2 linked regions of the Homo sapiens genome follow. The protein of the gene in region 1 interacts with the protein of each later gene in a pairwise test. Each region holds a gene or a part of one and is shown in the gene's direction. Other genes may lie near its edges. The genes, in order: RAD23B and DEAF1.

Region 1 (2,534 bases):
AGCTGTACAAGTATAGGCAGAGTTATTTTCCTGTTTACATTTTTTTTTTGTTTTGGGGAAAAAATTGGTAGGTGTCTAATTACTGTTTACTTCATTGTTATATTGCAGTAAAAGTTTTAAAACAACCATTGCATGTTTGCTTTTGATGTATCCCTTTGTGAAATTAGCACTTTTGGGGCCAATGGAGAAATGCAGCATTCACTCTCCCTGTCTTTTCCCCTTCCCTCAGCAGAAACGTGTTTATCAGCAAGTCGTGAGTCAAACTGCTGCCTTTTAAAAAACCCACAAAATGCTGATTCAGTTCAAAATTAATGCAAATGTTTCAAAACTGGGTTTCTGATATTTGTAAATGTGTTTCTTTATTAGATAAGAGTGTATTACCATTAAAGTCATTAGTATAATATTGCTTTCAAAAAGAAATGGTAGACAAAACTATAATCCAGCATCTTTTATTGCATTGGAAAGACTGGCAAAGTCTTTTGGATGGGTTGGGAGATGTGGCTGGAAAGTACTTTGGAAAATATACAATCAAGATATCTCATGGCATATTAAAAGAAAAATCTTAATAGCAGTGTTGGCTTTTATTTGGATTTTTTCATCTCAGTTTTTTCTGTGGAATCTCCTTCATTGGCATTGTTATTTAATCATAAACGGGGCAGATGTCTACTTGTTCAGTTTTTCAAATCTGTTTTCCTGAGTATAAATAAGAGTATTTAAAGAAATAATTTGGATTGCTTTTGTTTTTTGTTTCCTTTTTTTTAACCATCTGATACTAAGAAGATGAATTTGCACAGATTTCTCTGCATAATTTCTCAATATCTTTAGCACAGTATGGTGATGATGACTTTTAAGCATTTACATCACGTACTCATAACCTATTATGAAAATAAATGAAACTGGCTGGGTATGGTGGCTCATGCCTATAATCCCAGCACTTTGGGAGGCCGAGGTGGGCAGATCACTTGAGGCCAGGAGATTGAGACCAGCCTGACCGTCATGGCGAAACCCCGTCTATACTAAAAATACAAAAAATAGCCAGGCATGGTGGCGCACGCCTGTGGTCCCAGCTACTTGGGAGGCTGAGGCATGAGAATTGCTTGAACCCGGGAAGTGAAGGTTGCCGTGAGCTGAGATCACACCACTGCCATAAACATGACAGGCTTTTGGACTTTGTATTACCTGTATGTTTTATAATGGATCATGCATAATTTCTCAGGAGAATAAAATGAGAATTCATATATACGTTCATCTTTCAAGTCAGAGCAATGAGTTGGGAAAAGAGGTGGCATTTCTGATCGGATAATGGAATACTCTCATTTATTTTATGACATTCTCTGTCTACTCAGATCATAGTGAAAACTGGAAACAAAAAAAAAAAACAGCCTCTTCTTGGAAAGTGACAGCAGAAGGTGGCATGGAGCTTGTGTCCTTGGACAACAAATCTGGATATACTAGGATTAATTATCAGAAGACAGCTCAGGCCAAGTTTTGATCGTTCCATACAGTACCTTGTTTATCTGCTTCTTAAAGAATCAGCCGAGACACCATAAAAGAAATAGGCTTTTTGTGCCTTTTGCTGTTAATGTTTAATTTACAAACTGTTTTGGTAAATCTCTTAATGTAAGTAGCTATTTGACTTTGGAATTTTGCATTCGAGGTATACTGTCATTTCTTGAAATCTTTTTCTCGTTTAGTTGCTCTGTGGGAAATGTGAGGAAGCCTAAGTTTGTATTTGTAAATTTCTTATGCCATCCTCTAGTCAAATTTTTTTTCATTGTTTAAAAATACGGAAGTGTTCCAATATAATTTTTTCCTGTACTGGATGGCTAGGATTCTAGAGAATTGATTATAAAATATTTTCAATACATCCAACATTGCACTTCTCATTTTTTAAATGATTCTGTCACGTAGAATCAGAATTGAAAGTTGACAATGCTTCTGTCACTGATACTTCTTTTTACTTCAGTAATTGGTGAGTGTATCATATAGGAGGCCCAGGCACTAGATTGACTTTATTGGGTCTCCTGGTTCTTTTCTCAACACAGAGATGGGATACTTGCTGGGATGTTAAGGTTAGTGAGGTCTTCTAGGGAATGCATAAAATTTCCATTGTTCCATACTTGTCTGAAGCAGCCAGCCAAAGCCTGCTGCAAAATGTTCTACCGAAAGTAAGCAATTGGAGGGAATGAGTGTTCCTGACCCAGTCAGTTCTGGTGGATTCTCCAGCCATGAAGTTCAGTTGGCCTCCCCCATCCATTTTCCCCATTTTTTCCCCCTAAGCCAAGGGCTGGCAAACTACAGCTTCATGAGCCAAATCTGGCATATACCTGTTATGTGGTCCATGAACTAAGAGTGATCTTTACATTTTTAAATGGTTTCAATTGTATATGTTTTTTATCACCTCAAAAGTTTCAACTTACATTTCAGTGTCCTTAAAAGTGTTATTGAAACACAGCCATCCTCATTTGTTTACATATTGTCTATAGCTACTTTTGTGCTACAGAAGTTTGCTGTTGGATAGCTGCAGCAGACTG
Region 2 (3,828 bases), on another chromosome or scaffold:
TTACAGGCGTGAGCCACCGCGCCCGGCTGAGAATTTTTAACGGAGGCCATTTTGAAGCTAGGAGATGTATTAATTTCTTGGTTTGTTTTGCTTTCCAAATGCTCTAGTGTTGACATCCCTGCCTGCGCTGGCGGTCCCACCCCCGACTCCCACCAAAGCGGCACCTCCCGCGTTGGTCAATGGGCTGGAGCTGTCAGAGCCGCGGAGCTGGCTGTACCTAGAAGAGATGGTCAACTCCTTGCTCAACACAGCGCAGCAGCTGAAGACGCTGTTTGAGCAAGCCAAGCATGCCAGCACCTACCGAGAAGCTGCCACAAACCAGGCCAAGATCCACGCTGACGCAGAGCGGAAGGAGGTAACCTTGGAACAAATGGGAAGACACGACCTGTGCCGAGTAACCCCAGGCCACCCTGGTGCCTGTGCCCAGCTGCGCAAGCCCCACCTTGGCTCACAAGGCCCCTGCCCCACCTTTCTGGAAAAGGGAGCTGTGGAGAGTCATTTACAAATGAAGCTTTTCCTAAAGAAAAGTGACAGCTATTGTTGTTAAGGTGGTTTTGGTTTTTGTAAATAAGGTTGCTTTGTTTCAGAAAGGGAAACAATTTTGTGCGCATCGGCCGTTGTGAATACTCACCTTTTCTAGGCATTATTCATCCTTTGTCTTCCTGTAGTGAAATGTGCTTATATTTTATGAAGTTTGGAGAACATCATCTATTGAGTCTCTGAGTATCAGCGACTGGCAGGGCGAATGCTGAGCCCCTTCCTGGGAGCCGAGCTCCGTCCATCTGCTGTCACAAAGCCCTCCCAGCTTCTGGCACGTTCTTCAGAAGGCGGCTCCTGTGCATGGTGGGAGGCTCACAGGGCGTAGTGCCCATGTTTTCTGTAGCTTCCTATTACTGCAGCACAAGCAAAAGGTCACTTAGGCCCCTTCGGCCTCTTTTCATATGGAGTCTCTACTTCATATGAACCCTTTACTTAGATTGAAGACTTTGAGGTAATATAAAGGTTCAGGTGGGTGACATGAATAGGGTAGATAGAAATTACTAGAGCCAGAGTAAACTGGAGAGAGGGTGGAGGTTTCTCAGCTACTTCTCATAGCCCAAACCCAGCAGACAGGTACCGTGTGTCACAGGGCACGGGGACGAGAAGGTGAGAGAGGAGGGCGCCTGTCTGCTCAGCACAGATGGGGAGCTCTGAAGGCCACAGGAAAGGACAGGGATGGATTTTGTTGTAGCTGCTTTTTCGGGTACGGTAACGTGGACTTTGGTTTGTAAACAAAAGTCAAATTCATATTTTTCCCACCAAATCTATGTAAGAAACGTTTTCCCCCATTTCTTTTCTACTTTCTATTTTTATTTTTATTTGTGGAACAGGCTGTCACTCTGTCGCCCAGGCTAGAATGCAGTGGCACAATCTCGGCTCACTGCAACCTTTGCCTCCCGGGCTCCAGCGATTCTTGTGCCTCAGCCTCCCAAGTAGCTGGGACTACAGGCACCCACCACCACACCTGGCTAATTTTCTGTATTTTTGGTAGAGACGGGGTTTTACCATGTTGCCCAGGCTGATCTCACACTCCTGAGCTCAGGTGATCCACCCGCCTCAGCCTCTTAAAGTACTGGGATTGCAGATGTGAGCCACCATGCCCAGCTTCTACTTTTTATAGAAGAACTTTTTATTTATGTATTTATTTTATTATCATTATTTTTTTTTCAGCTGCTGCTTTATTTTACTTTATTTTATTTTTTGAGACGGAGTCTCGCTCCATCACCCAGGCTGGAGTGCAGTGGCACGATCTTGGCTAACTGCAACCTCCACTTCCTGGGATCAAGCAATTATCCTGCCTCAGCCTCCCAAGTAGCTGGGACTACAGGCGCCTGCTGCCATGCCTGGCTAATTTTTGTATTTTTAGTACAGACAGGGTTTCACCATGTTGGCCAGGCTGGTCTTAAACTCCTGACCTCAAGTGATCTACCCGCCTGAGCGTCTTAAAGTGCTGGGATTATACGTATTTATTTATTTATCTATTTAAAAAAAATTTTTTTTTTTGAGACGGAGTCTTGCTGTGTCGCTCAGGCTGGAGTGCAATGGCACAATCTCAGCTCACTGCAGCTTCCTCCTCCCGGGTTCAAGTGATTCTCCTGCCTCAGCCTCCGGAATAGCTGGGATTACAGGCATGTGCTACCACACCTGGCTGATTTTTTGTATTTTTAGTAGAGACGGGGTTTCACTATGTTAGCCAGGCTGGTCTTGAACCCCTGACCTCAGGTGATTCACCCACCTCAGTCTCCCAAAGTGCTGGGATTACAGGCATGAGCCACCTTGCCCGGCCTATTTATTTTTTAATTTTTAAATTTTTCTGTCATTCAGTGCACATCAGGTACTTGTTATAGATTCTACTAGACAAGCACATAACGAACAGTGATTATCATCCCAGGCCGTATTCAATGTTAGGGGTTTGTTACGGATTCTACTAGACAAGCACATAATGAACGGTGATTCTCAACCCAGGCCGTATTCAATGTTAGGGGTTTGTTACGGATTCTACTAGACAAGCACATAATGAACGGTGATTCTCAACCCAGGTCGTATTCGATGTTAGGGGTTTGTTACGGATTCTACTAGACAAGCACATAATGAACAGTGATTCTCAACCCAGGTCGTATTCGATGTTAGGGGTTTGTTACGGATTCTACCAGACAAGCACATAACAAACAGTGATTCTCATCCCAGGCCGTATTCTATGTTAGGGGTTTGTGTAGTTTCCCCAGGACCTGTAGTGGTGATTGTCCAGAAGCCTTCCATAGGAGGAATGCATGGTCATTAGGTATGCCACAGCTCCAAACACCAGCAACACCACTCAATGACTATTGAGGTAATGACAGTGACACTGCAGCTCCACATGGCTGGGGAGGTCTCACCATCATGGCAGATGGCAAAGCGGGAGGAAAGGCATGTCTTAATGGTGACAGGCGAGCAGAAGAGCTTTTTAGATTCTTAATTTTTTAAATGACTGATCAATATGTGATTAGTGTTTTTTGTGTTTCTTTTTTTTTTTTTTTTTTTTTTTAAGAGGTAAGGTCTCACTCTGTTGCCTAGGCTCATGGCTCATTGTAGGCTCAAACTCCTGGAAATACGGGTGCATGCCACCACGCTTGCCTAATTTATTTTTTTATTTTTTATTTTTTGTAGAGACTGGGTCTTGCCGTGTTGCCCAAGGTGGTCTCAAACTCCTGGGCTCAAGAGATCCTCCTGCCTCAGCCTCCCAAAGTGCTGAGATTACAGGCGTGAGCCACTGGACCCAGCATTAATTTTCTTTCAAGGAAGAAAAGTGTTTCTACTCCTGAAGACAAAGATAATTTTAAAATACTTTTTCACTGGGCACAGTGGATCACACTTGTAATCTCAGTGCTTTGAGAGGCTGAGGTGGGAGGATCTTTTGAGCCCAGGAGTTTGAGACCAGCTTGGACAACATGGTGAAACCCCGTCTCTACAAAAAAATATAAAAATTAGCTGGGTGTGGTGGTGGGCACCTGTAGTCTCAGCTACTTAGGAGGCTGAGGCAGGAGACTCACTTGAACCCAGGAGGCAGAGGTTGCAGTGAGCTGAGATCGGGCCACTGCACTCCAGTCTGGCGACAGAGCAAGACTCTGTCTCAAAAAACAAAAAGTCCAGGCGCGGTGGCTCACGCCTGTAATCCCAGCACTTTGGGAGGCCGAGGCGGGCGGATCACGAGGTCAGGAGATCGAGACCATCCTGGCTAACATGGTGAAACCCCATCTCTACTAAAAATACAAAAAATTAGCCGGGCGTGGTGGCGGGCGCCTGTAGTCC

Evidence for each region.
Region 2: the proteins of RAD23B (region 1) and DEAF1 interact in a two-hybrid assay, tested with the Homo sapiens proteins (one large-scale study listed by BioGRID and IntAct).

The regions. Positions count from the first base shown.
Region 1 is NC_000009.12:107,330,323-107,332,856, forward strand, and holds the end of RAD23B (UV excision repair protein RAD23 homolog B), read left to right. Parts: 3' UTR 1-1,867; downstream 1,868-2,534. UniProt on the Homo sapiens protein: Multiubiquitin chain receptor involved in modulation of proteasomal degradation. Binds to polyubiquitin chains.
Region 2 is NC_000011.10:671,063-674,890, reverse strand, and holds part of DEAF1 (deformed epidermal autoregulatory factor 1 homolog), read left to right. Parts: intron 1-107; coding exon 108-355; intron 356-3,828. UniProt on the Homo sapiens protein: Transcription factor that binds to sequence with multiple copies of 5'-TTC[CG]G-3' present in its own promoter and that of the HNRPA2B1 gene. Down-regulates transcription of these genes.